Linked DNA regions of Homo sapiens. The protein of the gene in region 1 purifies or fractionates together with the protein of each later gene. This does not show direct contact. Each region holds a gene or a part of one and is shown in the gene's direction. Other genes may lie near its edges.

Region 1 (7,284 bases):
AAAACATTTGGTGCCTACTGAAAGAAAGTTCAGCTATGTAAAATAATAATAGCTATGACTGAGCACTTTTTAAAGTCACAGGTGGTCTATACTTACACTATTTAATCCTCATAAGGATGCTGTAAATTAAGACCTATTAACATCCCCTTCACAGATGAGACTATTAGGACACAGGCGAGTCTCACTTCCTTCCCCAAAGCCTCCGCTGGCATTGCACCACTGTTGTCTACTATTGAATGTGGCTATGGAGAAATCTGGGGCCAATCTGATTGGTTTCCCCTTAAAGGTGCCTTGATCTTTTTGCCTGGATGCTCAAAGGATAACTTATTTTTGAAGTCCAGTGAACCTCAGTGGGATATGTCACAGGGGTCATTCTTGTCAGTTTTTCTTGGGACATTCATTGTATGTCCTTTCAATCTATAGATTAAAGTGTTTTAATTTATGTGAAGTTTCCCTTGAATTCTACTTTGAATATTTTTTCTTTTCCACTTGTTCCCATTCTCCTTCAGTTCCCATTCTCCTTCATATGGACATGGTGGATATACTTTGTCTTTTTTATCTATACATTTATCTTAAATTCATTTTATTATTTTTAAATTTCCATTTCATTTTGCTTGCATTTCTCAACCTTGTCCTCCAAAGTTTTTTGTTGTTGTTATTGTTTTTGTTTGTTTAAGACAGGGTCTCACTCTGTCACCCAGGCTGGAGTACAGTCGTGTGATCTTGGCTCACTGCAACCTCTGCCTCCCAGGCTAAAGCGATCCTCCTACCTCAGCCTCCCAAGTAGCTAGTACTACATATATGTGCCCCCAAACCCAGCTAATTCTTTTGTATTATTTGTAGAGATGGGGTCTTGCTGTATTGCCCAGGCTGCTCTTGAACTCCTGAGCTCAAGCGATCTGCCTGCCCAGCCTCCCAAAGTGCTGTTATTACAGGGATGAGCCACCACGCCTGGCCTAGTCCTCCTAAATCTTACTGTGTTTTATCCCTGTCTGTCTTTCCCCTCATTTATAATGTGGCTTTTATTTCTAGATGTTTTATTTTCCTTCCTGTCTGAGTTCTGTTAGCTTATTTTAAACTTCCTTCTATTGCCTCATCATTTCTTCTGCTTTGAAGTCTTATTTTAAACTGGTTCAGTAAGTCCTTTAAATTCATAACAATATGTTTGGTCTGTTTCATAGCAACATTCTTCTAGAAATTTTTTTCTTTTTTTTTGAGACGGAGATTCGCTCTTCTTGCCCAGGCTGGAGTGCAATGGTGTGATCTCGGCTCACTGCAACCTCCGCCCCCGCAGGGTTCAAGCGACTCTTCCACCGCAGCCTCCTGAATACTTGAGATTACAGGCATGCGCCACCACGCCCAGCTAATTTTGTATTTTTAGTAGAGGCGGGGTTTCTCCATGTTTGTCAGGCTCGTCTCGAACTCCTGACCTCAGGTGATCCACCTGCCTCGGCCCCCCAAAGTGCTGGGATTATAGGCGTGAGCCACTGCACCCTGCCTAGAAAATTTTTTTTATCTGACATTTGCTTTTCCTATTCCATTCTTCCTAATTCTTGTAGATTTGCTGTATAGATCTTTTGCTTGTTTGGTTTTGATTATTACTCATTACTGAGTGAAATGAGGTCTCCTTCAGCCAGCCATGTGCGGGAAGCAACTGGGCAGTGAACTGAGCTGGTAGTGAAGCTGCTTCTGGCCCTCTCTCCCAACCGTAGTTCATCAACAGACTGCCTCCAGCAAAGAGAACATTTCTGAGCATTTTATCATTCAGGCCTGTCTTATCTTACTATTTCATGGTGCCAAATAGAGTTCTGGGAAGTTCCCACAGCTTGTGCCCCTTAAATCTTTGTTGCAACCAGGATAATGGTTGTGCTCTGCAGATGTACCACCTACTTGGTGCTCTGCCAACTTTGTCTGAGAGTGGGGACCACAGCAGGTGTTTAATCTCAGCATACTTGTAGGCTCTGGTGTAATCTTCACTGAATTTGGCAGGTCATCCTCATTTATTGTGCCTAGGGTTTCATTGGTACCATATTTTTTCAGAGAGTGGATGGGTTTTTTTCCCTTTCTTGTTTTTGGGTGATCTCAAGGATGACAATGTGACAGAGGTAACTTTATTTTGTTATTCTAAACTTTATTTATTTTAAAACCAGAAGTTTTTTTTTTTTTTTTTTTTGAGATAGGGTCTCACTCTCTCACCCAGGCTGGAGTGCAGTGGCATGATCTCGGCTCACCACAACCTCTGCCTCCCAGGCTCAAGTGATTCTTCTGCCTCAGCCTCCCGAGTAGCTGGCATTACAGGCGCCCGCCACCACGCCTGGCTCATTTTTTTATTTTAGTAGAGATGGGGTTTCACCATGTTAGCCAGGCTGGTCTCGAACTCCTGACCTCAAATGATCCACCAGCCTCGGCCTCCCAAAGTGCTGGGATTACAAGCGTGAGCCACGGTGCCTGGCCTAAAACCGGAACCATTTTTAAAGATAGAGTGCCTCTATTCTTGGAAGGAGTAGGTAACATACCACCTTAGACCATGTCATGTGGGAAAAATAGTTTCAAAATTCTACGCACACCCCAGCAGCAACAAGCTTTCTCATAATCATATAGGTATAAGTAACAGAGCTTAGATCAAATCCAGGTCTGTCTAAGTCCAAAGCCTCAGTTCTTTTTGTCATAGAACTTACTCATAAAGGATATAGATATCTCTTTATGCTTCTTCTTGTGAATATTTTTCTATTAACTACTTTTTTATTTCCTGGTTTTTAGTGTGACAAGTACAAGACTGGAGTTATTGATGGGCCTGCATGTAACAGCCTTTGTGTTACAGAAACTCTTTACTTTGGAAAATGTTTATCCACCAAGCCCAACAATCAGGTATGGCCATTATGAATAAACATTCCAGAATTATAGTGTACTCTAATTTTACCAGAAATTAAAGGCATTATTAAAAGAATTCTTGAACCAAAGCTTTGAGACATTATATGTATTTCAATTTTGTATGCTTTGATTCATTCATTAAACAGACATTTATTTTATTTTAATTTTTTGAGACAGGATCTGTTGTCCAGGCTGGAGTACAGTGGTGAGATCTCTGCTCACTGCAACCTCCACTTCCCAGGCTCAAGTGAGCCTCCCACCTCAGCCTCCCATGTAGCTGGGACTACAGGCTCACACAACCACACTTGGCTAATTTTTTGTATTTTTGTAGAAACAGAGTCCCGCCATGTTGCCCAGGCTGGTCTCGAACTCCTGAGCTCAAGCAATCCACCCGCCTTGGCCTTCCAAAGTGCTGGGATTATAGATGTCAGCCACCACACCTGGCCAGTCAAAAGATATTTATTAATCTATCCCCAGTATATTCCAGACACTGTTTTGTTTTGTTTTTTTTTTTCTGTCAGCACTTTGATGTTAGATGCTGTTTCAGTTACCAGGAATACAATGGTGATTAAGGCAACCTGGTGCGGTGGCTCACGCATGTAATCCCAACACTTTGGGAGGCTGAGATGGGAGGACCACTTGCGCCCAGGAGTCTGAGACCAGCCTGGGCAATGTAGTGAGACCCTGTCTCTCCAAAATTTAAAAAAAATGCCAGGTGTGGTGGCACACACCTGTGGTTCTAGCTACTCAGGAGGCTGAAGTGGGAAGATTGCTTGAGCCCAGGAGGTTGAGGCTGCAGTGAGCTATGGTCCCACCACTGCACTCCAGCCTGGGTGACAGAGTGAGTGAGTGTCTCAAAAAATAAAAAATAAAAATAAAAAAATACAAACAGCCGGGCCCGTGGCACGGGCCTGTAATCCCAGCACTTCAGGAGGCCAAGGTGGGTGGATTGCTTTAGTCCAGGAGTTTGAGGCCTACCTGAGCAACATAGCAAAACCCTGTCTCTACAAAAAATACAAAAATTAGCTGGGTGGCCAGGCACAGTGGCATACACCTGTAATCCCAGCACTTTGGGAGGCTGAGGCGGTAGGTCACTTGAGGCCAGGCATTCAAGACCAACCTGAGCAACATTGCGATACCCCCTCTCTACTAAAAACACAAAAAATTAGCCGGGTGTGGTGGCACATGCCTGTAATCCCAGCAACTCCAGAGGCTGAGGCACAAGAATCGCTTGAACCTGGGAGGCGGAGGTTCCAGTGAGCCAAGATCTCACATCACTGCACTCCAGCCTGGACAATAGAGCGAGACTGTCTCAAAAAATATATATGTATTAGCTGGGTGTGGTGGCACACACCTATGGTCCCAGCTACTCGGGAGGCTGAGGTGGGACAATCACTTGAGCCCAGGAGGTCAGGGCTGCAGTGAGCCGTGTTCATGTCACTGCACTCCAGCCTGGGTGACAGAGTGACACCCTGTCTCAAAAAAAAAAAAAAAAACAAAAAAAAACCAGACAAGATTGCTTCCCTTACAGACCTTACATGATTCCAGAGGGACAGGAGGTACAAACAGTTGATAAATAAATAAATAAACAAACAAAATAATTGTAGAATATGGTGTGTTCTGTAGGAGACACAGAGGGCAAATTGATAGAGAATGCAGTGTAAGGGATGGTGAGAAGTGCTTTAGAGGATGTGATCAGAGAAGACCTTTCTGAAATAATATTTGAACTTATACCTTAATAAAAAATTCATAGGCATGGGAAAAGGACAGGATGAACTAAATCACAAAAGAACTGCAAACAGCTGATGAACATAATGAAAAAAAATTCTACCTTACTTTTCATCAGAGAAATAAGAATAAAACAGTAGAATATCTAATTGGGGTAGAAGAAAATACAACGAAACATCTGGAGCAGTGGAAAATTGCATTTTAATGTTCATCTTATGGTTCCTAAATTTTCCTATATAAATATGCATTATTATTATAGAAATTTAAACTAATTTTTCAGTTGACAGTATTAATCATGTTAAAGACAATTTCTAAAACAAAGTCCAACATTTGAGTGTCTCCTGCATGCCAGGCACTGTTTGAGGCACTGAGGGAGACAGATAAAGCCTCTGGCCTCATGTTCTAATGTGAGATGAGACAGATAGTAATGAACTGATAAATAAATAAATATGATAATTTTAGACAGTGCAAAAGGCTATGAGGATAATGAAACAGGGTTAGAGGTGACCTGGGGGTGGAAGAGGATCTCTTCTAGACAGGGGGTCAGGGAAGGCTTTCTAAATGCAATGTCTAATCTGAGACTTGAATGATGTAAAGGAGCCAGCCATGTGAAGATCTGGGAGAGTACATTCCAGGCAGAGCCAGCAGCAAGTGAAGCAGGTCAGGAAGCAGAAACAAGCTTCAACCTGTCACAGAAAGACCAGTGTAGCTGGGACTTTGAGAAACGGAGTACGTGGTACAAGATCAGGTTGGAGACATAGGCGAGGCTAGCTCAAATGGAGCCCAACCGGTCATGGAAAGGACTTTGGACTTTAATTGAAAGGGGAATTTATTAGAGGGTTTGGAGCAAGGCAGTGAAATAATGTTTTCTTTGGATTAATATTAAGAATGAATATGATCTTATTTATTTTTTTATGTAGAAGAGGGGCAACCTATCCTAGTGGTAAAGACCTCAGCTCTTTTCAGCATGTTACTTCACCTGTATCTGCTTCAGTTTCCCCATCAGTGAAATAAGTATAATGATAGTACCTACCACCTAAGATTGGTACAAGGATTAAAATAATAACATAAATCAGTAAAAGCCAGGTGTGGTGCCTCATACCTACAATCCCAGCAACTTGAGAGGCTGAGGCAGGTGGGTCACTTAAGGCTAGCAGTTCAGGACCAGCCTGAGCAATACAGCAAGACCCCATCTCTACAAAAAATGTTTTTAATTAGCCAGGTTTAGTGGTACATGCCTATAGTCCTGGCTACTTGGGAGACTGAGGCAGGAAGATTCCTTGAGCTCAGGACTTTGAGGCTGCAATGAGCTATGATTATGCCACTGAACCCCAGCCTGGGTGACAAAGCAAGACCCTGTCTCTAAAATAAATTAGTAGACCATAGGACATAGTTAACACTATATAATATTAGTTTGATAAATAACTAGATACTTAAATAGTAGTTAATTCTGGGGAAGTGGGATTATGGAAGTAGAATGTCTGGGAACTTTGCTTTTGCCTTACATCCTTCTCATTGGACTTTTTGAAAAATATATTTAGGCATGCATTACTCTTATAATTTAAAAAATTAGTTTAAGGAAAAAATCTTGAGTGTGATTTCAAGTTTGCAGTTCAGAAATAAAGTCACACCTTAACCTCAATGTTTGATGCTTGTTTTGTTTTGTTCAGAGGAGGAGGACCCTAAAAATATAGTAGTATATTTTTTAGAGTTTTCTACTCAGTATAATACATAACTTGCCACTCTTTTTTACATAGATGTATTTAGGGATTTGGGATAATCTACCAGGTGTTGTGAAATGTCAAATGGAACAAGCGCTTCATCTTGATTTTGGAACTGAATTGGAACCAAGAAAAGAAATAGTGCTATTTGATAAGCCAACTAGAGGAACTACTGTACAAAAATTTAAAGAAATGGTCTATAGTCTCTTTAAGGTAAGCATACCCATTCATATGTTGCTAGTGTGAAGTGGGACTCTTTAGAGGAATTGGCAGGACCTCATCCTAAGCCATTAAAGTGTTGATATTCTTTGACCTCTATCAGATTCTCCATCCTGAGGAAATAATTATAAGAGGCCGGGCGTGGTGGCTCACGCCTGTTATCCCAGCACTTTGGGAGGCCAAGGCAGGAGGATCACTTGAGCCCAGGAGTTCAAGTCCAGCCTGGGCAACATAGTAAGACCTCAGCTATATATATATATATATACACGTATATATATATATACGTGTGTGTGTATATATATATATATATATACACACATATATATATACACACATATATATATATATATATATATATATATATATATATATATATATATATATGCCAGGAGTGGTGGCATGTGCCTGTAGTCCTAACTACTTGAGATGCTGAGGTGCGAGGATTGCTTGAGCCTGGGAGGTCGAGGTTGCAGTGAGCCAAGATCTCACCACTGCACTCCAGCCTGGACGACAAAGTGAGACCCTGTTTCAAAAAAAAAAAGAAAAAGAAAAGAAATCTGTGTTGGAGAATGTTTACTTTAACATTATTTATGATAGCTAAAAATGTCCAGATATGAGGAGGGAGTTCATTAATTAATTGGAGTGCTGTACAGTTTGACATGAAAATTAATTCAAAAAAGGTGAAATAAAATGAGTATACTCTTAGAATTGTGGCTATTAGAGGCTGGGAAGGGTACAGAGGAGA
Region 2 (7,284 bases), on another chromosome or scaffold:
ATGTGGAATTTTGTTGTTGAAGCAGGGTCTCTGTCACCCAGGCTGGAGTACAGCGACGGGGTCATAGCTCACTGCAGCTTCAACCTCCTGGACTCAAGCGATCCTCCCACTTCATCCTCCCAAAATGCTGGGATTACAGGCTAGGATTACAGGCGTGAGCCACCATGCCAGCCCCCATGTGGAATTTTTTTTTTTTTTTTTTTTTTTGAGTTGGAGTTTCACTCTTGTCGCCCAGGCTGGAGTGCAATGGCACAATCTCAGCTCACTGCAACCTCCACCTCCCGGGTTCAAGTGATTCTCCTGTCTCAGCCTCCCGAATAGCTGGGATTACAGGCACCCGCCACTACGCCAGGCTAATTTTTGTATTTTTAGTAGAGACCGAGTTTCACCATGTTGGCCAGGCTGGTCTTGAACTTCTGACTTCAGGTGATCCACCCACCTCGGCCTCCCAAAGTGCTGGGATTACAGACGTGAACCACGTGGAATTTTTAAACCTTGCTCTTTGTTTTATGGAAGTGAGTTCATGTTGTGCCCCCTCTGCATGTTGCTTTCTTTCCTCATATTTTGCGGGAATCCCTCCAGCCCTTTGCTGCAGCTTTACAGCAGCTGGTTCCCAGTGAACTGGGAGTTTTAAATGTGTCCCTCTGGTCAATCTGTTCATTAAATAGGTGGACTTTAGAAAGGAGTTCCCGATTGCTCTTACTGGAATGCAAGGGATGGAGCAGAGAACCCTGAGGCTGCACTGGGGATCTGTCTAATCTCACTGTGCTCAGTCTTCCTGTGTATTAAATGGGGAGCCTGCCTGCCTCCCCCAGGGTGGTTTCCCAGCCAAGTGGCCACATGCTTTCTGCAGAAGGGCTGATAAGTGGGCTGCCCCGTGGAGTAGGCAGGCTTTGGCTCCCAGCTAGATTTGAGGTGGAATTTTGGACAATGGAAGAATTTTCATTGTCTTCTTCCCCTGACCCCTGGTCCTAGGAAAGCCAGGCCACCCTGTGCTAACCCCCCTCCTATGGCTCCCTTTTAGGTTGAACCATGATTCCGGTGACAGAGCTCCGCTACTTTGCGGACACGCAGCCAGCATACCGGATCCTGAAGCCGTGGTGGGATGTGTTCACAGACTACATCTCTATCGTCATGCTGATGATTGCCGTCTTCGGGGGGACGCTGCAGGTCACCCAAGACAAGATGATCTGCCTGCCTTGTAAGTGGGTCACCAAGGACTCCTGCAATGATTCGTTCCGGGGCTGGGCAGCCCCTGGCCCGGAGCCCACCTACCCCAACTCCACCATTCTGCCGACCCCTGACACGGGCCCCACAGGCATCAAGTATGACCTGGACCGGCACCAGTACAACTACGTGGACGCTGTGTGCTATGAGAACCGACTGCACTGGTTTGCCAAGTACTTCCCCTACCTGGTGCTTCTGCACACGCTCATCTTCCTGGCCTGCAGCAACTTCTGGTTCAAATTCCCGCGCACCAGCTCGAAGCTGGAGCACTTTGTGTCTATCCTGCTGAAGTGCTTCGACTCGCCCTGGACCACGAGGGCCCTGTCGGAGACAGTGGTGGAGGAGAGCGACCCCAAGCCGGCCTTCAGCAAGATGAATGGGTCCATGGACAAAAAGTCATCGACCGTCAGTGAGGACGTGGAGGCCACCGTGCCCATGCTGCAGCGGACCAAGTCACGGATCGAGCAGGGTATCGTGGACCGCTCAGAGACGGGCGTGCTGGACAAGAAGGAGGGGGAGCAAGCCAAGGCGCTGTTTGAGAAGGTGAAGAAGTTCCGGACCCATGTGGAGGAGGGGGACATTGTGTACCGCCTCTACATGCGGCAGACCATCATCAAGGTGATCAAGTTCATCCTCATCATCTGCTACACCGTCTACTACGTGCACAACATCAAGTTCGACGTGGACTGCACCGTGGACATTGAGAGCCTGACGGGCTACCGCACCTACCGCTGTGCCCACCCCCTGGCCACACTCTTCAAGATCCTGGCGTCCTTCTACATCAGCCTAGTCATCTTCTACGGCCTCATCTGCATGTATACACTGTGGTGGATGCTACGGCGCTCCCTCAAGAAGTACTCGTTTGAGTCGATCCGTGAGGAGAGCAGCTACAGCGACATCCCCGACGTCAAGAACGACTTCGCCTTCATGCTGCACCTCATTGACCAATACGACCCGCTCTACTCCAAGCGCTTCGCCGTCTTCCTGTCGGAGGTGAGTGAGAACAAGCTGCGGCAGCTGAACCTCAACAACGAGTGGACGCTGGACAAGCTCCGGCAGCGGCTCACCAAGAACGCGCAGGACAAGCTGGAGCTGCACCTGTTCATGCTCAGTGGCATCCCTGACACTGTGTTTGACCTGGTGGAGCTGGAGGTCCTCAAGCTGGAGCTGATCCCCGACGTGACCATCCCGCCCAGCATTGCCCAGCTCACGGGCCTCAAGGAGCTGTGGCTCTACCACACAGCGGCCAAGATTGAAGCGCCCGCGCTGGCCTTCCTGCGTGAGAACCTGCGGGCGCTGCACATCAAGTTCACCGACATCAAGGAGATCCCGCTGTGGATCTATAGCCTGAAGACACTGGAGGAGCTGCACCTGACGGGCAACCTGAGCGCGGAGAACAACCGCTACATCGTCATCGACGGGCTGCGGGAGCTCAAACGCCTCAAGGTGCTGCGGCTCAAGAGCAACCTAAGCAAGCTGCCACAGGTGGTCACAGATGTGGGCGTGCACCTGCAGAAGCTGTCCATCAACAATGAGGGCACCAAGCTCATCGTCCTCAACAGCCTCAAGAAGATGGCGAACCTGACTGAGCTGGAGCTGATCCGCTGTGACCTGGAGCGCATCCCCCACTCCATCTTCAGCCTCCACAACCTGCAGGAGATTGACCTCAAGGACAACAACCTCAAGACCATCGAGGAGATCATCAGCTTCCAGCACCTGCACCGCCTCACCTGCCTTAAGCTGTGGTACAACCACATCGCCTACATCCCCATCCAGATCGGCAACCTCACCAACCTGGAGCGCCTCTACCTGAACCGCAACAAGATCGAGAAGATCCCCACCCAGCTCTTCTACTGCCGCAAGCTGCGCTACCTGGACCTCAGCCACAACAACCTGACCTTCCTCCCTGCCGACATCGGCCTCCTGCAGAACCTCCAGAACCTAGCCATCACGGCCAACCGGGTGAGTGGCCCGGCCACAGCTCTGCGTGTGGGCTGGCGGGTGGCCTGGCCAGGGCTTGTGGTGGGGCACTCGGCAGGCTCAGTGTCCTGGGACCGTCGATGCCCCTGAGTGTGGAGTCCTCACCTGGGGTTTACAGAACCATCCAGGATAGAAGCTCTGTTCAAGAGACAGACTCCTTGGGCCCCATCCCAGGCCTGCTGAATCCGAATCTCTGGGCCCCGGGCCTGTCTTTGCTCCAAAATGTTGCAGTTCTCCTGCCTGGAGAGACTGCATGGCCAGGCAAGGTCTGTCCCCCAAGGTGACCTTGAGCCGGGTTCCTCTTCAGCAGGGATGTGCTTGGGCAGGAGGTCCAAACCCGGGGGTTCTCTCGCAAAGCCGGGTGGTGGGAGTCAAGACTTAGCCTGGAGTTTGTGTCTTCCTCAGCTTGTTCCCAGTCGGACTTGGAGGCAAGGAGCCAATCCGGGTCCACCCAGGACAGAAACTGTGTGGGTGGCCAGTGCTGGCTGAGGGGAAGCCTTGGATGGTCTCTGCAGCTCCCACACACCTTTCTCCACTGCATTTGGTGGTGTCAGAGGCAGAGTTGGGCCTAGATGGGGCTAGTTTGTTTCTGCCTGCCCTTCTGAAAAGGAAATTGTGCAAATCATTGTCACTGGGAGTTTGGGAGGCCACACCTTCGACATACTTTCAAGACTGTTGGTGGTCTGTGGGTGCCAGTCTCTTACCTGGCTGGGGAAGCCCCCATCCAAGGGCCCCTTGGTGGAGGCAGGCAGTGTGGATGGAGGGCTGGGTACTCCTGTGGCTCTGTGGTCTGGCCTCCGAAATGGAAACAAAGCCACTGCCATTGTGGGGAACGTCCCTCTTCCACCCGTCCTGGGGACCTGCAGGTTTTCCTGGGCCTCACATCCAGGTGGAGATTCCTGTAGTGAGACATGTGGTGGAGGAAGCCTGAGGCCAGGCGCTGGGAGACAAGGGAGAGCCCAGCCAGCCACCCTTCTGCCCCCGACACAGCAGCAGCTGTCGTGCCGGGCCCCTGTGAACTTCACTAGGGATGCCACCAGGTTCAGGAGGCTGAAGAAGAGACTCGGAGTTGACCAGGCCCAGTGGGTCAAACCTGTAATCCGAGCACTTAGGGAAGCCAAGGTGGGGCGGTCACTTGAGCTCAGGAGTTCGAGACCAGCCTGGGCAACATAGGGAAACCCCATCTCTACCAAAAATACAGAAATGATCCAGGCATGGTGGCATGTGCCTGTAGTCCCAGCTATTTGGGAGGCTGAGGCAGGATCGCTTCAGCCTAGGAGTTCAAGACTGCAGTGAGCTATGGTTGTACCACTGTACTTCAGCCTGGGCAATAGAGTGAGACCCAGTCTCAAAGTAAAATGAAGAGCCCTGGAGCCGGCCATTGAAACATGGGGTTTATTTGGGGGAACTTACTTACAGGGTGGTCCAGCAGCAGTGAGCCAAATAGGAAAACCACTCCTGCTTATAAAAAGCGTGCAGCTCATAGAGCATTTTCACTAAGCACCCTCCCCTCTGCAGCCTCCGTGTGGCAACCCGCGTTTCTTAGTTCGGTTGTTGCTGTTGGGTGCATCTGCCATGCAGCAGCCCCACGGTGCAGTCCCTGTTGGTTTCGTGGGCACCTGCTCTGTGTTCGCCCTGTGCCAGGCATGATGCACCTGTCCTCCTTCCACCAACCTGCTGAGTCCTCCCAACAGGGTCTGTCTATAGCATCCTCAGGCACGGAGGGAGGTGGCCCCTGGAATGCCCGGTCTGTCTATAGTATCCTCAGGCACGGAGGGAGGTGGCCCCTGGAATGCCCTGTCTGTCCTCCTGGGCCCCAGGACAGGACACACCTTCTCCAGCATCACTCAGACTAGATGCTTCAGGCCCTCCAGATGCCTGCTGGCTTGGAAGCCTTCCTCCCCTCTTCCCCAGGGCTCCCTTACTGCAGAGCAACCTGCAACCCACATGTATCAGGGATTTTGACAAGTCCTTATCTCCGGCCACCCCATATTATGACTTGAGCACAGTGGGAGAGTGGACCAGGGCAGGGTTTTCTCTTGTAGTTTCGGGACAGGCCCACTGAATAGGAAAACTGGAGTCCCCTGGGGAGAAGCCACATTTGGGAAGCACAGAACAAACCCAGCCCTTCTTTAATCTGTGGAGGGGGAGACCCTGTGGCTTCCCCATAGCACAGTGCTGCCCTTGATAAGCTGGGACTTCCTCACAGCTCCTGCCATTCCTGCCCTGTCCCGGGTGCTGTGCTGGGGCTGTCCTCCTGGTTGGGGGAGGGTTCAAGCCTCCAGCCTGGCTCCCCATCCTGTCCCCCACCCCCAGCTCCTCCCGCCAAGCTTGCCTGTTAGTGTCATGCCTGCTGGCTGAGGTCACCCCTCAGGAAAGGAGCTGGCGGCAAGCACGCTGTCCCAGAGGAAGGAGACCCTCTGGACACCCTGTTTAGCACATGGCTTAATCACATCCTGTCCCCACCCCCTGGAACACCAGAGCCTTAATAGGGAAAACAGTTCACTTGGGCCAACCCCAGGCAGGCCCCTCATTCTGAGTGGGAGGCCTGAGCCCCTCTTCCTCCTCACTCGGGCTTGATGGCTCCTTCTCAGCCACCTTGGCCAGTGGTGACCAGGAGGGGTGGGCGTGGCCTGCCCACGCCCTTGCGTGCTGTTTCTCCAGATTTATACTCTTGCTAATGAAAGCCTTGACAAGACAGTATTCATTCGTTCACTCGTTTACTGATGTGTGCAAATTGTTATGTTTTGTTTGTTTGTTTTTTTGGTAGAGACAGGGTCTCACTGTGTTTTCTAGGCTGGTCTTTAAACTCCTGGCCTCAAAGCCTCCCACCTTGGCCGCCCAAAGTGCTGGTATTACAGGCATGAGCCACTTCGCCTGGCCTTTGTGCAGATGTTTTTTGAGCACTTCTAGAATCCAGCTATGGAGCAAGGCGCCGGGGACATGGGGATGAAGAAGGCCAAGTAACGAGGCAGTTAGCACAGTGCGTAGGCGCTCTGCTGGAGCACCAGGTCCCTGGGAACACAGAGGAACAGGCCCCTGAAGAACGAGGAGGAGGAAGCCAGGTGGAGGGGAAAGGGACAGTCCAGGAGGTTCTGGTGGGGAGGAGCAGTGAGATGGGCTGCCCAGGAATGTGGGCATCCTGGAGAGCAGAGGTGGGGCTATGGGGGGGGGTGTGGATGGCAGGGGGGTCCTGTCCTACACCTCAGTTTCAATTGTCTCTTCATTTGTTTAACAGCCGATCCCTTGCCAGCCCATAGGCTCTGATGACTAAGACCTAGCTCTTTTGTTCAAGCAAGTGTTTACCGAATTCCTAGTGATTGAGTGGGTGAAGGAATGAGCTGACTTGCAGCGTGAGGTTCCTCTTGCGGTAGTGTGTGGGGTGGGGTGAGTGAGAGGTGGGAGGTGGAAGAGAGCTGTTAAGAGACCACGATTAGCCATCAGGTGAGGCCACGGGGCCTGGCGTGGCCAAGGCAGGTAGGGATGGAGAGACATGGACGGATCTGGGAGACGCTGGAGGGGGAATTCAAAGGGACGGGAGTTGATGGTGGGGGTGGTCTGAGTGACTTGAGCTTTTTTTTGTGGATTGTTGAGACTGGAGGAAGCACAGGTTTTCAGAGGCCAAGGTGTGTCTCATGTCAGGTGTCTGGGGCTCTGGGATGTCCAAGGGACCATCTTGAATCCACCTGAAGCCCAAGGAGTCACCCTTTCCAGGCTCATGGGTGAAGATGGGTCCTTGACTTGCTCACTGTGGAGAGCAGAGAGGGAGAAGGACAGGAGTCTGCAGAAGAGGAGGGCGAGGCCAGAGCGTGGGGCACATGGGGCCTGGGGAGTTGGCTGGATTAGGAACTGGTGACTTTGGCCAGAGAGTTAAGGGTGGACAGGGTCATGGAGGCAGAGTGAGGAGAGAGACAGCGGCTTTCCTGCAGTTGGTCAGGAAGGCCAGAGAGCCAAGGACAACGCTGGGGCCCTGGAAGCCTCCTGAGAGAGTTGTCCTTTTCAAAGATCAGGTCGAGTTGAGGCCTTTCAGTGCCGATGGGGACCCACTGAAGTCTCTGGGGAGGTAGGAGAGGGTGC
Region 3 (7,284 bases), on another chromosome or scaffold:
AAAAGCTTTGATTTGCATAGTTAAGTGATTACTGCGTCAAGCCAATTAACATATCCATCATCTCAGGTTGTTAACCTTTTTTGCGGTATGGTAAGAAGACTTAAAATCTACTCTCATCAAATTTCTGGTAGACAACACAGTATTATTAACTACAGTCCTCTGTTGTATGTTGAATCTCTAGGCTTATGCATTCTACATAACTGCTTCTTTGTACCCTTCCACTTATACCTCTCCATTCCCCGGCCCTGTTTTATTCATCTGGGAAGCATTTGATTGTGATTTAATGCTTAGTAATGTGTGTCCATTCTTTCCACAAATAAAATATCACACAGCCCCACTGAGTAATGAGAACACTTACTCTCATTTTAGTTTGTTCACAGTGTCATATACACGTTTCTCATTTGCTTTTGTTTTTAAGCTCCTCAGTTGTAGTTCAGTTTCTTTGTATTATTTCTTTTCACTGTAGTGGTGATTCCCGTGTTCATTTTTGGCTTACATTTTAAGTGCACGTTGCTTTATGATTTTTTTCTTCACCAGATTGGAAGATTTTTTGGAGAGATTGATCCCAGCTTGATGAGACACCTGGTTAATATATCAGTTTATGCTTTTAACAAATCTTATGATTATCAGTCAGTATGTGAGCCCGGTGCTGCACCAAAACAAGGAGCAGGACATCGCTCAGCATATGTGGTCAGTAATATCCACGGTCTAATCAATTCTCAAGGGGTACTCAAGTGTCCTCAGTATCAAGTAGACTACTGAAATGACCTTATTATTTTATTTTATAGCCATCAGTAGCAGACATATTACAAATTGGCTGGTGGGCCACTGCTGCTGCCTGGTAAGTCAAAATTTTAGTTTTATTGGTAATGAAAGAAAGAAGTTGTAAAATAAAAAAGCATCTGATGAAAATATGGATTTAGGGGATATTCAAATTTTTATTAAGGGAGTTAAGTTGTTTTCATTCTTTACATCACCTATTGGTAATATTTATAGTTTTTCCTAAGTGAACACTATAAAGTTACCATTATTCAGTTTCTCATATGAAAACAATGTTATGCGGATGTAAACTTCAGCCTCTTTAGAGTCTTCCTTCCTCTACATATCTATTGAAACTCTTTTCATTTGTATTAAATATTTATAAAAACATTACACTAATTTCTTTTAGGTGTATTGATCTGTAAGAAGTTACAATTTGTCTTTAATATCCCAGTTGGATGTCTACATGCATCAAATTCATGGCATGATGGCAACCTTCTACCTCTTTACTATTGATACAAGGACTAGTATTGTTTTAGGGGCATCAGGTTGCCGACATGGATCTAATTATTTCTTTTCACTGATGCTACCTTCCAAACCTCCCTCAACCCTCACCTGTAGACCCTACAACCTATGAAAATAAGACATTTAAATGGTCAATTGTGGCACTGTGGAAGGTCTGGAAGATCACATTTCTCATTGTTTAGTTGTAACTAAACCTCCTGTTACGTCTGGAATCCATGATCTCCCTCTTCCCTCTCTCCCTTCTAATCTTTTTTTTTGTATCATCACACTGTATTGTTAGCCCTATTCCATGTAGATTAATGTACAATATTCATTTGATGTTGAGGTTTGCCCAGCTAAAATTAAGTGACTATATCATTAAAGCAGCAAAAAAGATTTTAAAATTTTGAGAGTTTTTAAAAGATTTAGAAAATTCTGTTTTATTCTGAAAAATGGTATTTTCTGATGTGATTTTATATATTAATTTCAGTAGGCTTTTAAAATTTCATCATGACCCTGAAATACTTGGCTTTATCCTATATCCCCTCCCACCCCCACTTTTTTTTAAACTAAATTCAGTTCTAGAAATTTGGCTCAGTTGTCAGTTACTGTAAAACTGAAATGTGCTGTATCTCTCTAATATGTATATTTTGTTTCATGAAAGTTACATTACATATTTACAAATATATTCTATATTACAAAGTAAATAGTTAACAAATTCAAACCCATGGTATAAACAGCATTGTTTCTTTGTTGGGGGCGGGGGAAACCCAAAAAACAAATGGTTTTAAAAACTAAAATAAGGAGACGTAATGAATGTGAAAACCTACGCGCTGAAACAGACATTCTCCCTCTTAGAGTGAACTCTTCTGCTTGATAACATTGCCTGTTAGGTTTCTTCACACATTGTGTCCCACTTGATCCTGAACAAGATCTGAACACTTCTGATTTCATGACTTCTTTTACACATTACAAAAAGGTTACAATGTGTTATATAATTTTGAAAATACTTAAATAAAAACACTCCAAGACTTTCTTTCCCAAAAAGATAAAGGGAAACAGTATTTATGTGTATGGGTACATGTAAAAACACATTTTTTCCCTAGATGTTTATTTTTTTTTTATTTGAAAAATTCAGGTCTATTCTACAGCAGTTTCTCTTGAGTTTGACCTTTCCACGACTCCTTGAGGCAGGTATGTAAATGCTCAGACCTTGTCATTGCCATAACAATAAAAATTTTCTTTTGGGATGTGCTTGAAGTTCAACAAATTCAGAGAATATTTGTGTGAAAGAGAAAACAGGTCACCCATCTCATAATTTTAGAGCTAGAAACTTTTTGTCCAACCTTTCCTAATGTTTTAGAAATTACCTAGGTCACACGGGCCTGATCTCATAGCCATCTTGTATTTGAATTCATTTATTCTCTTGATATTTATCAGGCATCTATTACGGGCTGCCACGATATTACACAGCAGTAAACAAGCCAGTCGAGGGGTCCTGGTCTTATACGTTTATTTTGCTCTGTGAGAAGTGAAGACTCGAGGGGAGTGACTACAGAGACCCCTCCTAATGGTGTTCTTTGTTTTTACACCGTCCCCCGCCACCCAAGTTGAGATGGAGGATGATGACTTCACGGCCTCCCTGTCCAAGCAGAGCTGCATTACTGAACAAACCCAGTATTTCTTCGATAACGACAGTAAATCATTCAGTGGTGTATTAGACTGTGGAAACTGTTCCAGGTAATTTATTTATTTCAGGAGTAGTCCTATTTCATTAAGAAATTGTATATACTGTTATAATCATTAAGAAATTGTATATACTGTTATAATCATTACAGAAAAAACTGAAAATTGTGTTGGAGTCAGAGATGTGAGTAATTGTTTTAAGCTGAAAATGTCAGCAATCTTTAGTTTCTCTGTAGACTTTTAAAATTTGTAATTTTTAAAATTCTAACTTTGATAAGCTGTTATTTCTTCAACTATAATAATTACATGATCAAGATAATTCCTTTCTCTTTAGGCAGAACATAGAGAAATTTGATTATATTTTAACTTTTTTTCCTAAAATAACCCATATTAAAAATTTCTAATATAAAGTTATTAAATATATTAGTAATTTAAATAATTCTAAGCCAAATATTATTTATTTTTCTATATAGTAACTAAACAGATTTACAAAAAAAAAGTCTTGTTTTGTTTTGTTTTTACTTCTAGTCTTCTCTGACTTGAAGAACTGAATGTTATCTTTATTTGAATTTGAAGGAACTGGGAAAAATACAGTTTTTTTAGGTCATGGTTAATGTTAGTCAGTATCCATAAAATATCTTTTAAAAAGAGATGGAGAATTTAATTTTGTTGTAATGAGGGTAGAGGAGAAAGGCAAGATGGGGATTTTGAGGGGAAAGTAATAATTAATGCCACAGGATTCCTGAGAGGAGAGCAGCAAGTCACAGCTTACAAAGCACAGAGTAGAGACACTTTGTTTTTAGAGGTGGAGGGAAGATTATTCTAGAAGAAATGTTACCATAGCGGAAGAAGAAATAGGAGGAGGTGAGGTAATCTGAGATTATGAAAGTGCCAGAATAGTTAAAAAAAAAAATTTTGCAAGAGGGGCTAAGCAACCTATCATGAATTTTTAGGAGACGTGGTCAGTATGTTTTATGACTTTCTTTAGCAGACCTCTATCTCCAAGGAGGAGGTAGAGTATATAAAGAGGAGAGGAAAGGGAAGGAAGAGTCAAGCATGAACTCAGAAAAAAAGCAGACTGTCTTGTTTAGAGGAGATTAGCATATCAGGCTATGGACTTCAGGAAATGGGATTGTGGCATGTTTATTGGATACATCAGAGTTTCACAGACATTGGCCTTTTATTAATTGACATCCAGCAAGAGCAATTGGTGTGCTTAAAGAAGTAAGTTAAATTGTAAAGTGAAGAAGGTCAGTATAACCAAGATGTTAAATTGCATCATACTTTCCTTTTGATTTGCTTTATGGAAATCAAAGCTTAACAGGGCAAAAAGAAAATCCCACTTTTCTGCAAAATGTATAATGATAAAGAAATTACTTTTTTAGTGATATATTTACATTTTTTATGTTGGTTACTAAAGTAAGAGCAGCTTAAGGTGTGGACAAAACAGGGGATGGAATTCAAAACCCTTGATTCTGTCCATGTCTGTGTTGCCCAGTGCAGTAGTTACCACCTATAGGTGGCTATTGAAATTTCAATTACAGTTAAATTAATTAGAATTAAAATTTTGTGCCTCAGTCACACTTGTCACATTTTAAGTGCCCAATACCCTCGAGTGGCTAGTATTTACCATATTGGACAGTGCGAACAACTTTTCCATCTTCACAGAAAGTTTGCTTAATAGCACTGTTCCAGACTTTTCTCTGCCCTTAGGTTGGGCAAGATGCCTAGACATTTTTGTATTCCCTGTTGTGTTATCTGTAAAATAAGGCAACTTTGGCATAAGCATCACAATTCTTTGTATGTGTAAAGAAAAACTTTTTTCTATGTACATCAACAACTAAATTGTGCTTATTTTGCAATGAGGATTAATACTTTAAAATGGTCACACATAAAACATATATTGCAATTTTTTTATTCATTTGACATAGGTAATACGTTCATGCTAATAAATGAAGCATTTTTTTCTTCTAAAATCATACTCCTATTGTGCTGGGAATGGTTTCTGTTTCAGATGTCATATTTTGTCTTTCATTTTAATATGTAAGAATCTTTGAAAGATTTCCATTTATTTTGGAAAAGATACTCATTTTCTATGATACCATATTTATTTTGCAGAATCTTTCATGGAGAAAAGCTTATGAACACCAACTTAATATTCATAATGGTTGAGAGCAAAGGGACATGTCCATGTGACACACGACTGCTCATACAAGCGGAGCAGACTTGTATCCTTTGACATCAGAGCTATCTGGAAAGGAAAACCATCTTAATGCATTTTGAATCTTGTCACATTGTTTATATTCATAAAGAGAAAACTATTAGACTGCTCTGATCACCTCGCAAAGGCAGAATCGATTCCTCACTCAAAATTTGGTTGGAATGTCAAGAATAATTATGCTACACATGCCCCAGAAAAGGATAATTCACAATTTAGTTCTTTAAATCCCTATGTACTTGAATTGTGTTGGATGAGAGTAATGATGTATAAGTTATCTCTCTCACATGTTTTGGGAAATACATTGCATTGTATTTATTTTTAATCATGTGAAAAAAACTAACATGAGATTCCTTAACAAGTCTCTTTTAGCTGACGGTCCAAATCCTTGTGACATGGTTAAGCAACCCAGATACCGAAAAGGGCCTGATGTCTGCTTTGATAACAATGTCTTGGTAAGATCACACTTCTACTGGATTAAAATACTATAAATTAATGGTCACTGTCCGCAAGAATTCAAGGATACAAATTGCAATTTTAACTCAAACGTAATGTCTTAACCATAGTTTTTCTCATTAACATGACATACTTGCTGGTAGATTTTTTTCATTTCAGTAGTTTTCATGGTTAGCATAAACTTGACAGTTGCTTCTTTTATATGTCCTTCCCACAGAAATTGTGCTTTCAAACACAATTCCAATCAATTTAACTCATAGTAAATGTTAATTATGGTATATTTGTTGCCTCCATTTATATTCCAATCCTGAAGATATAAAAGTTAATTTTATTATATTTTTGTTAGTTATATTTGTCTTCAGTGAATTGAAAAACCTGTTATACAGCCATTGTCTTATTATTACAGAGTTCTAGTGTGAATTGAAAAACCTGTTATACAGCCATTGTCTTATTATTACAGAGTTCTAGTTTCTTTTGGATGGTTTCTGATGCTATCACATATTAGACTTCTATTATTTCCTTTAATTGTACTAATTTCTTTTTCTAGTGTTTGAAACTAGACCAGGTCAATTACATAGGGTTTGATAAAATATTACAAATCATATTTAATATATGTCACTTAAAGATGGCTTACTACTTTTCCTATAGTTCAGCTATCTTTCTCTAATAAATACTATTCTGATTTACTGTGTATTGATTATATACAAGGTAGGTAATATGTCATCAGTATGTACTACATTAGCTTTATGCTTTTAAAATTCTTAAGAAATATTAATCTATTCTCAAAGATGAAGTCTACATAAAAATCTCTGTCTACCTCTTTTTAACTAATTTTAAATACAATACTTCCTAATTCTGATTCTTCAGTGTGTGCACACACCAATGAATATCCAAACTTGTAAAGCATTATCTCATAAATTATTTGAGTTATTTAGTTTACCTACTCAAATACATAGCTGCATTTGTCCCAGAAAGGACAAAACATTTTCACAGATAATATTATGCAATTAGATAATATAAATTAAAAATAGCACAAAGAAGTAATAAAATCAGTAATGGGGACTAAAAATGAAAGATGTATTAGCCAGTCAATCCCAGTTATCTCTGTGAGGGATTATTGATCCTTGCTAGGGAGAGTAATTCAACATTGCAACTAAGCGTTTTTTTTTTCTTTTTAAGATATATTAAGTCCAGATAGGCGGACTCCTGTTATTCTGTCTACTGCAACTTCAGCACGTTGCCCATGTAAAATTATTCCCCCAAAGAATGTTTTATGAAGGGCCAAGGGTCATGTCACTCATTAGAGAAACTTCGCTCATCAACTATTTGTCACCAGTTTTTTGACACTAGAAATATTAAATTCAGATGAACTTGAAAAGTGACTTAAAAGCCTATTGCCCAAAATATTATTCTAGGAGGCTATATCTTATGATCAAGCCATTAAAAGGATTTGACCAAGACAAAAATGTTCAGCAATTGAAGCTCCTATAAATGGGTTGTGTGTGAAAGTACAACTGTTGCTCAGTAGCTTGGTGTGCTAATAATATCTTGTGTTTCTTTAGCAGTGGAGTTATTTTGGTAATGCTTATTTGCAATGGTCACTGTGAATCTGCTCTGGATGGAGACTCACGTTAACTGCCAGCAAATTGCATGAAATCTCA
Region 4 (7,284 bases), on another chromosome or scaffold:
TTCCATCTTCAGTTATTCATTCATTTAGTCATTTATGTACTTTTCATTCAATAGTTATTTCTCAAGCACCTACCCAGCTCCCGGCCACTTTTCTTAGTCTGAGAGGATACACTGATGAGTCACTCTGGTCTCATTGAGCTTACCTCATCGTGGGGCAGACAGTAAATAAACAAGTAAATGAATAAGTCTGTCATGTGATGTCCTAAGCCACAAGTGCAGTGTAGAAAATAAAGCAGTGTAAGGGATGGAATAATGGAGATCAGTACTATTTTAGACAGGATAGTCAGGAAAGAGCTTCTGAGAGGGGAGCTTTGAGCAGAGACCTGAGTGAGACAAAGGATCAGGCCCTGCAGGGATCTGAGGGAAGAGCATTCAGGCAGAGGGAAGTGCATGTACTGTAGTTCTGGTGTGGACCTCTGTGGGTTCAAATCACAGTAAGAAGGCTGGCGTGGAAAGGGCAGAGTGAGTGAGGCAGAGGGTGTTGGGAGATGAGGTTAGATGGGTAGGGAGACCGCACAGACTCTGGCAGTTGTCATGAGAACTTTTTACTTTGAGTGAGGTTGGAAGACATTGGAGGGTTTAAGCAGGGGCATGACATAATGAGATTTAAGGATTTAAATTAAAAAACATCACTCTGCCATCTGTCTGGAGAATCGACCCCCAAGAGAGACTTCATGTAAAATGATAAGATTCTATCATAGGTGTAGATAGTTTGCGGTTACATGAGCAGAGTGGTAGGACTCCCTTTTTGATGGTGGAAATGAGGATGACACCTTGTCTCAGGGCTGGTCTGAGGGAGCGAATGACATGATCCTCTCTTGGGTTGAGGGCCTAGAGGCAGTGTGAGTTACTGCTTCTTGTCATTGGGCTTTGATGTCTCCCAGAGCTGTGGCCTTCTACCTCCCTGATGACTCAGTGTTGACTCTAGTCCTGACTGCACAAGTGCTTACACTCAATTAAGTGGCAAGAGGGACTGTTTCCTACTACTGGGGTGCTTGGTTTTCAGGGGGCCCTTCTCTTACCTCGCTTTTTCACCAGCGAGCTCATGTTTTTCAGACACGGGATGCCTCACTCTGTCCCAGTACATCCTCCTTGACCCCATCCTGATGTTCTTCATCATGGCTGCCATGCTGAGCATGGTCAAGTACAACTCTTGCGCCGACAGGTCAGAAACTCCATCCCCGGGAGGGGAGGGTTGGAAGCTGTGGCAACTCCAAAATTTCTGTAATGGCCAGGGCCAGGGCGGGTGCCCAGAGACTTGTCTTGAAGCTGATTTTAAGGCAAGCATACTTTTTGTTTGTTTTTTTAACTTAGATTGTCCATTTTAGATCATAAAAATAGATTTTAAAAAGTTTTCTACAGGTGATTTTATTTTTGCCATATTCAAGACCGAGAAAATGTCAGTTGTCTTTTTCAAGCGTATTATTATTATCATGTTTACAATGGAGTACAATTGGGTAGGGGTTTTGGGATATCATGGGGGGTCCTAATACTTTCCCCACCCACCTCTTGTAACCAGTGCTGGTTAGGAAATCCCGGGACAGGGCTGTCCTTCACATACTCTGTCCTAGAAGGGAGGGCACCAGGGTAGATGCTGCCTGGAAACTATCTCCCTTTCGTCAGTGGTTGCATCCAGTCCTGACCTAATGATGGGAATAGCATATGTAAAGGTTGGCTTGAATGGTCCATACCAGCCAAGAGGATCCTTCCAGGTCCTGGTCAGTTCTAAAGCTGACTTGGAGGGTCCGGTCTACTTGCAGAATAGTCTTTTCCAGATCATCCTTCTACTTCTGAGAAAGTAGAATAAGTCATTCATTCTATTCAAACCAGAAGAGTTGGCCCCTCGTAGGCTTTTCTGGAAGTTAACTTTGCACAGCCAGGCTCATTAAGCTCCATTGTGCTAATCAAACCTGATCAGTGACTCTCAGCCCACTCTGGCTTTGGTTGTTGTGCTTATGCCACATCCACTTCCATCTACCATTTCTTGAGTACATACTGTGTACCAGGTACTATGCGGGGAGCTGGAGGTACTGAGCTCTGTTGGGCTTGGCTGTTAAGGAATATTCACTCTGGCAGAGGAGGCAGCCAGAGAGCCAGAGAATCATAGTGTAGAGTACTAGGTGCTATACGAATAGCAAAATGGTTAAGAGCACTAACATTGACCCAATTGCCTGGGTTAAAACTGTGCCCCACTGCCTGCTAGCTGTATTACTCCACCTCTCTGTATCTTGATTTCCTCCTGTGCAAAAAGAGGACCTAGTGACAGGATCCTCTGTGTGCTGTAGTGACGGCTAGAAGAGTTAATATATGCATCGTACTTGGAATGATGCGTGACGCATACATAGTAAGCACTCGGTAAATGCTGCCTTCGACAAGGGCAGAGGTGACACAAAGGAGAGGGCTGCCTGAGTCCAGGGGCACCTAAGGATTCTCCTTTTACTCCTGCCTGACTGGTCACTTGTGAAGAAGGAGCCCCCACTTACCCTGAGCCCTGTACTTAGCCAGGAGCACTATGGACACTCTCCCCTGAAGAATACCCTGCGCCCTCAGACAGTGCTTTTCCTGCCGTTCCAGGGGTTTCACAGGCCGCCTCCTCCATGGAGCCACGCCATGGTCCCTTGAGGCTAAGAGCCCCCAAGACAGGGCACAGCACAGCCGCTCCAAGTCTGAGAACTGCCCTGTCCCCTGCTGCGCTTGCGTTTGGCTTTGGTTCCAGCTGCCAAATTGAACTCCGTCTTGTTGATTTTCAGGCCCTTCTCTGCCCCCTGGTGGTTCTGGCTCAGCCTGACTGGCGTTAGTCTTGCTGGTGCTTTAGGGGTCAAGTTTGTTGGCCTCTTTATCATCCTTCAAGTGGGGCTGAACACCATTGCAGACCTTTGGTACCTGTTCGGAGACCTCAGTCTTTCATTGGTGAGCACCCAAGGGTTTGCTGTGGAAATGTTTTTGCTCCCTGATGTTGCTGAGTAGGAGCTGGTGGCCTTCTCTGTCTCTACTGCAGGTGGCAGAGTGGCTGTGTTCTGGGTCCCAGGTGGGCTGGACCCCCCAACCTCCGCAGACAGCAGGACATCAGGGAGTGGGCCCGGCTGAGGACTGGATAGGGTTCAAGGGAGAGGATAGATTAACATTCTTGGAAGTCTCTTTTTGCATTTGTTTTATAATGTCTGTCTTTTTTTTTTTTTTGAGATAGAGTTTCACTCTGTTACCCAGGCTGGAGTGCAGTGGGCCGATCTTGGCTCACTGCAACTTCCGCCTCCTGGGTACGAGTGATTCTTTTGCCTCAGCCTCCCAAGTAGCTGGGATTACAGGCACATACCACCATGCCCAGCTAATTTTTGTAGTTTTAGTAGAGATGCGGTTCTACCATGTTGGCCAGATTGTTCTCAAACCCCTGACCTCAAGTGATCCGCCCGCCTTGGCCTCCCAAAGTGCGGGGATTACAGGCATGAGCCACCGAGCCCGGTCTGAACTCACAATTTTCATTTCCTGACCCACGGTCTCCATATTTGGAGGCCAGTAAGGGCCTTTACAGTTTATTATTTATTAAGGGCTGATTCTATGCCAGGCACTATGCGAAACGCTTTACCTTCATTATCTCATTTACCCCTCATAATAGTCCTATGAGGTAGGGAGTTATTACCCTGATTTTCAAATGAGGAAATCAAAACCTACAGAGGTAATGACTTCCCCGAGGCCATCGGGGAGTGAGAGGTGTATCTAGGAGTCACAACCAGGTTAGGTTGGCCCCAGGCCATCACTCTGCTGTGGTGCTGCTCCATCACCTCCAAACCAGCTCCTAACAAGTTTATTCATTCATTCATTCATTTATTCAGAAAATGTGTAAAGATCATCCAGCCACTGTGTGTGAGGTGCTGGAATATACAGATGAATATAATATGGTCCCCACCCTCTGTGGTCAATGGAGAGAGAGAAATAAGGAAGCAGGCAGTTACAGTCAGCCAGGAGTGCTGGGAGAGCACAGAAAAGGGCACTCGGCCAGTCCCAGGCAATCCAGGAAGGCCTCTGGAAGGAAGCCGCGAAGTTAAGATAAGGAGCCATTAGCCATGTGATGGGTTGGGCTGGGACAGTAGAGGAAGCACTGGGAAAGTTCAAGGAGGTTAGTGTACCTGGAACATGGAGCGGACTGGTGAGCAACTGTGTTGCAGATGCAGGTGCCTTGTCCTTGGCACAGTAACATCCTGGGGTTTTGGGTGTAGAGCCTGGAGAGGTAGCAGAGGGCTGGCCCATGTTTATCTTGTGTAGTGCTTGGGTGGTGGGTGTTACAGAAAGGCTTAGGGTTTCCACATATTCTTCTCTCTCCTCTTGGCCATTTTTTATGATTATGACTGATATATTAAAAGCTATATATAATGCATGCATAGTGCCTAAGGAATAATGAGGTCTCACATGCCTAGCACCCCACGCTGGCCTCTGTTTGCAGGTGACTGTGGGAAAACACCTGACTGCTCGTGTCCTGTGCCTCATAGTGCTGCCCCTGGCTCTCTATACAGCCACCTTTGCTGTTCACTTCATGGTGCTGAGTAAAAGGTACAGACAGAGCCTTTGCAGCATCTTGCTTCTGGTTTTCCTTTTGCTCCTAAGCCTGTGGAGGGGTCGGATGATTTTCTGGGTCTGTGGTTAAAATGATAGGTGAGGGACCCCAGGGGCTTTTTCCTGTTTCTTTCCTGCTATGTTCTATCCTTTGGGTATATGCTAAGGGCTCAGAAAGGCCAGCACCCTAACCTGAAGGAAGAAGCTATTTTCGTTATAGCCAAATTGTCCCTTATCTCTAAACAGAGTCCCCTGTACTTAGCAAGGATAGGCCACAATAAGATGTGCAGTAGGAGTGAGTGTAACAATAACAGTAACTCCGGCGGCAACAGCTCCCACTTAATGAGTAGCTACTGAGAATCAGGAACTGTGTTCCGCATTTTGTACACATTATCTCATTTAATCAGAATCACTTGTGACTTCTCTTGGTTTCTTTAAATCTCTAGTTTATAAATGAGGAACTAAGGCTAAACAAGGTTATCTTGCCCAAGGTCGCACAGCTAGTAAGTGGCTGAGTTGGGATTTGGACCCCAGTTTCTCCAACTCCATCACCCACCTCTGTCCCATGATCTGATTCTACTTTCCTTAAACTATCTGAGCAGAGCTCTTCCCAGCGCTCCTGGGAAATCACACTTTCACTCCTTTAACTTGACTCTCTTCTGCTCTTCCTCTCCCCACAGTGGCCCTGGTGACGGTTTCTTCAGTTCTGCCTTCCAGGCCCGGCTTTCAGGGAACAACCTGCACAATGCTTCCATCCCTGAACGTGAGTGTCTCTGGGCCATTACAAAGGTAGAAGGCAGAGGGGTGTCCTGGGAGTTGAATTGGAAAAGACAAATATGATGGCTTTGGGTTATTTTAGCCTGTGATGGCACGGTGGGAGAAAGACCCAGATAGATCTGGTGAAAATACTCGAGAGTGAATCAGGACAGAGGAGAGGAAGACATCCTGAGCAGCAAGCTCTCTGACCCTAAAGAATGACTTCTCCTTGGTGGCTCTCCAAGCCAGCTCTGTGGGAAGGTCACTCAGAGAGAATATGGTGACAGCACCAGGCCCTTCAGAGCCAGTTTTTGGTTTCCCGCACCGCTTTCTGAGTGTTGCATTCGTTCATCTATGACAGATGGTAGTGGAGCGCGTGCTCACCCTCCAGAGATGGAGCCTGGTGTAGAGGAGCTCCACACGGTGTGGCTGGAAGCGTTAAGTACGTAAAGAGGGAGCACAGCTCTGGGGATTGACAGGCGTGAAGGAGCATGGCTGCTGGGCGGTTAAGGGCATCAGAGGTTCGTGATGTGGGTTGCCTTGGAGTCAGGCCCTGGAAGAATGTGTGGCTTTCAACAGAGGAGAGGGCATCTCAGGCAGGAGGGATGACATGATCAAAGCTGAGGACAGAGTAAAACTTGAGGCACAGGTATATGCAGAAAACTACTGGAAGATAAATGTGAAAAGTTAGGTTGGGCCCAGACTATGAGGGTTTGAGGTGTCTGGATGAGGTATTTGACTTCCTAAAACAGGCCGTGGAGACCTAGTGGAGGTCTTTGAGCAGCCAGGAGGCCAGGAAGGCTGTGCTATAGGGAGATGACATGGGTGGGAGAGTCGAGGCTGGCTGGGGAGGGGACAGGATTGTAGGCAAGAGAAACCCTCTGGGAAGCTATTGCAGGAACCTGAGCTGGGTATGGTGGGGCAGCCACAGGGTAAGGCAAATGGGCATATACAAGGGAGATCTGGACACAGCAAGAGAGGAAGAAAGATGTCACTAAGGACTTGAGTGCAGGTGATTGCTTCCTGGAGGCAGAGACTGCATCTTACTCATTTTAGTCTTTCCAGGACTTTGCACAGTGCCTAAAATACAGCGGACTCTCCCAGACTGGGAAGAATGAGAAATAGGGAAGCAGGAGAAGAAGTTGGGTTGGAAGGGCAGATACTGAATTCCACGCGAGAGGGGTTGATAGTGAGCTGCTTGGGGAAATTGTTGCCATGGGGCCAGTGGGATTTGGGGCTGATGCTTTCAAAGGAGGAATCAGACAAGTAAAACGGTAATTGATGCTGTGGCAGTAGCTGTGATTTGTAAGGAAACTGTAGAAAGAGGAAAAGAATAGAGCTGAGGTCAGATCACTGGGGAATGCAAGAGGAGGAGGAATTAGGAGAGGAGACTGCGGAGGAGCAGCCCTTGAGAGAGTGTGCGGTCGAGAAGTGGGAACAGAGAGCATTTCAAGAAATAAAGGTGGTCAGCCATGTGCAGGGCTGCCGAGGTTGGCCTGCCTGAGAACTCAGAAGAACACAGCTGTGGAGTTTAGCAAATTCCTGCTCATTATTTAAAGGCCTAGTTCAGCTGTCACCTCTTCGATCAAGTCGTCCTCTCTTTAATCCTTGGGAGAGAATTTGGCCTGTTCCGAGTTCCCACCATTCCCACCATGTCACACATTGTCACGCCTTTGTGGGGCACTTGCCCACTGTCCTATACTTGTCAGTGTGTGAAGCCATCTTCCTTGTAGACAGGGCTCTTCCAGGGCCACAGGCAGGCCTCCTCCACCTTTGGATCCAGTGTGTAATTCTTCTGGTCCACTGAATGAACAAAGAAAAACAGGAGCAGGTCATTCCAGCGGATTGGAAGAAGGACAGTATTAAGGAAAAAAGGTTTCTCAATAACTCAGGGCCTATAGGAGCAGGGGATGCTCTTGAGAAGTGGTTTTCTGTGTTTTTTGTTTTTTAATTCAGAGTAAAACAAAACACCATTGAACA

The links.
Region 2: the proteins of DIPK1A (region 1) and LRRC8A purify together in Homo sapiens (co-immunoprecipitation; 2 studies listed by BioGRID and IntAct, with this or other methods). This does not show direct contact.
Region 3: the proteins of DIPK1A (region 1) and CACNA2D1 purify together in Homo sapiens (co-immunoprecipitation; 2 studies listed by BioGRID and IntAct, with this or other methods). This does not show direct contact.
Region 4: the proteins of DIPK1A (region 1) and POMT2 purify together in Homo sapiens (co-immunoprecipitation; 2 studies listed by BioGRID and IntAct, with this or other methods). This does not show direct contact.

The regions. Positions count from the first base shown.
Region 1 is NC_000001.11:92,846,432-92,853,715, reverse strand, and holds part of DIPK1A (divergent protein kinase domain 1A), read left to right. Parts: intron 1-2,760; coding exon 2,761-2,868; intron 2,869-6,356; coding exon 6,357-6,533; intron 6,534-7,284.
Region 2 is NC_000009.12:128,906,133-128,913,416, forward strand, and holds part of LRRC8A (volume-regulated anion channel subunit LRRC8A), read left to right. Parts: intron 1-1,024; 5' UTR 1,025-1,032; coding exon 1,033-3,189; exon of another isoform or gene 3,190-3,808; intron 3,809-3,911; exon of another isoform or gene 3,912-7,284. UniProt on the Homo sapiens protein: Essential component of the volume-regulated anion channel (VRAC, also named VSOAC channel), an anion channel required to maintain a constant cell volume in response to extracellular or intracellular osmotic changes.
Region 3 is NC_000007.14:81,957,613-81,964,896, reverse strand, and holds part of CACNA2D1 (voltage-dependent calcium channel subunit alpha-2/delta-1 isoform 1 preproprotein), read left to right. Parts: intron 1-537; coding exon 538-690; intron 691-788; coding exon 789-841; intron 842-2,401; coding exon 2,402-2,457; intron 2,458-2,873; coding exon 2,874-3,003; intron 3,004-5,067; coding exon 5,068-5,177; intron 5,178-5,539; coding exon 5,540-5,622; intron 5,623-7,284. UniProt on the Homo sapiens protein: The alpha-2/delta subunit of voltage-dependent calcium channels regulates calcium current density and activation/inactivation kinetics of the calcium channel. Plays an important role in excitation-contraction coupling.
Region 4 is NC_000014.9:77,296,716-77,303,999, reverse strand, and holds part of POMT2 (protein O-mannosyl-transferase 2), read left to right. Parts: intron 1-1,056; coding exon 1,057-1,165; intron 1,166-2,750; coding exon 2,751-2,910; intron 2,911-4,438; coding exon 4,439-4,545; intron 4,546-5,228; coding exon 5,229-5,311; intron 5,312-7,284. UniProt on the Homo sapiens protein: Transfers mannosyl residues to the hydroxyl group of serine or threonine residues. Coexpression of both POMT1 and POMT2 is necessary for enzyme activity, expression of either POMT1 or POMT2 alone is insufficient.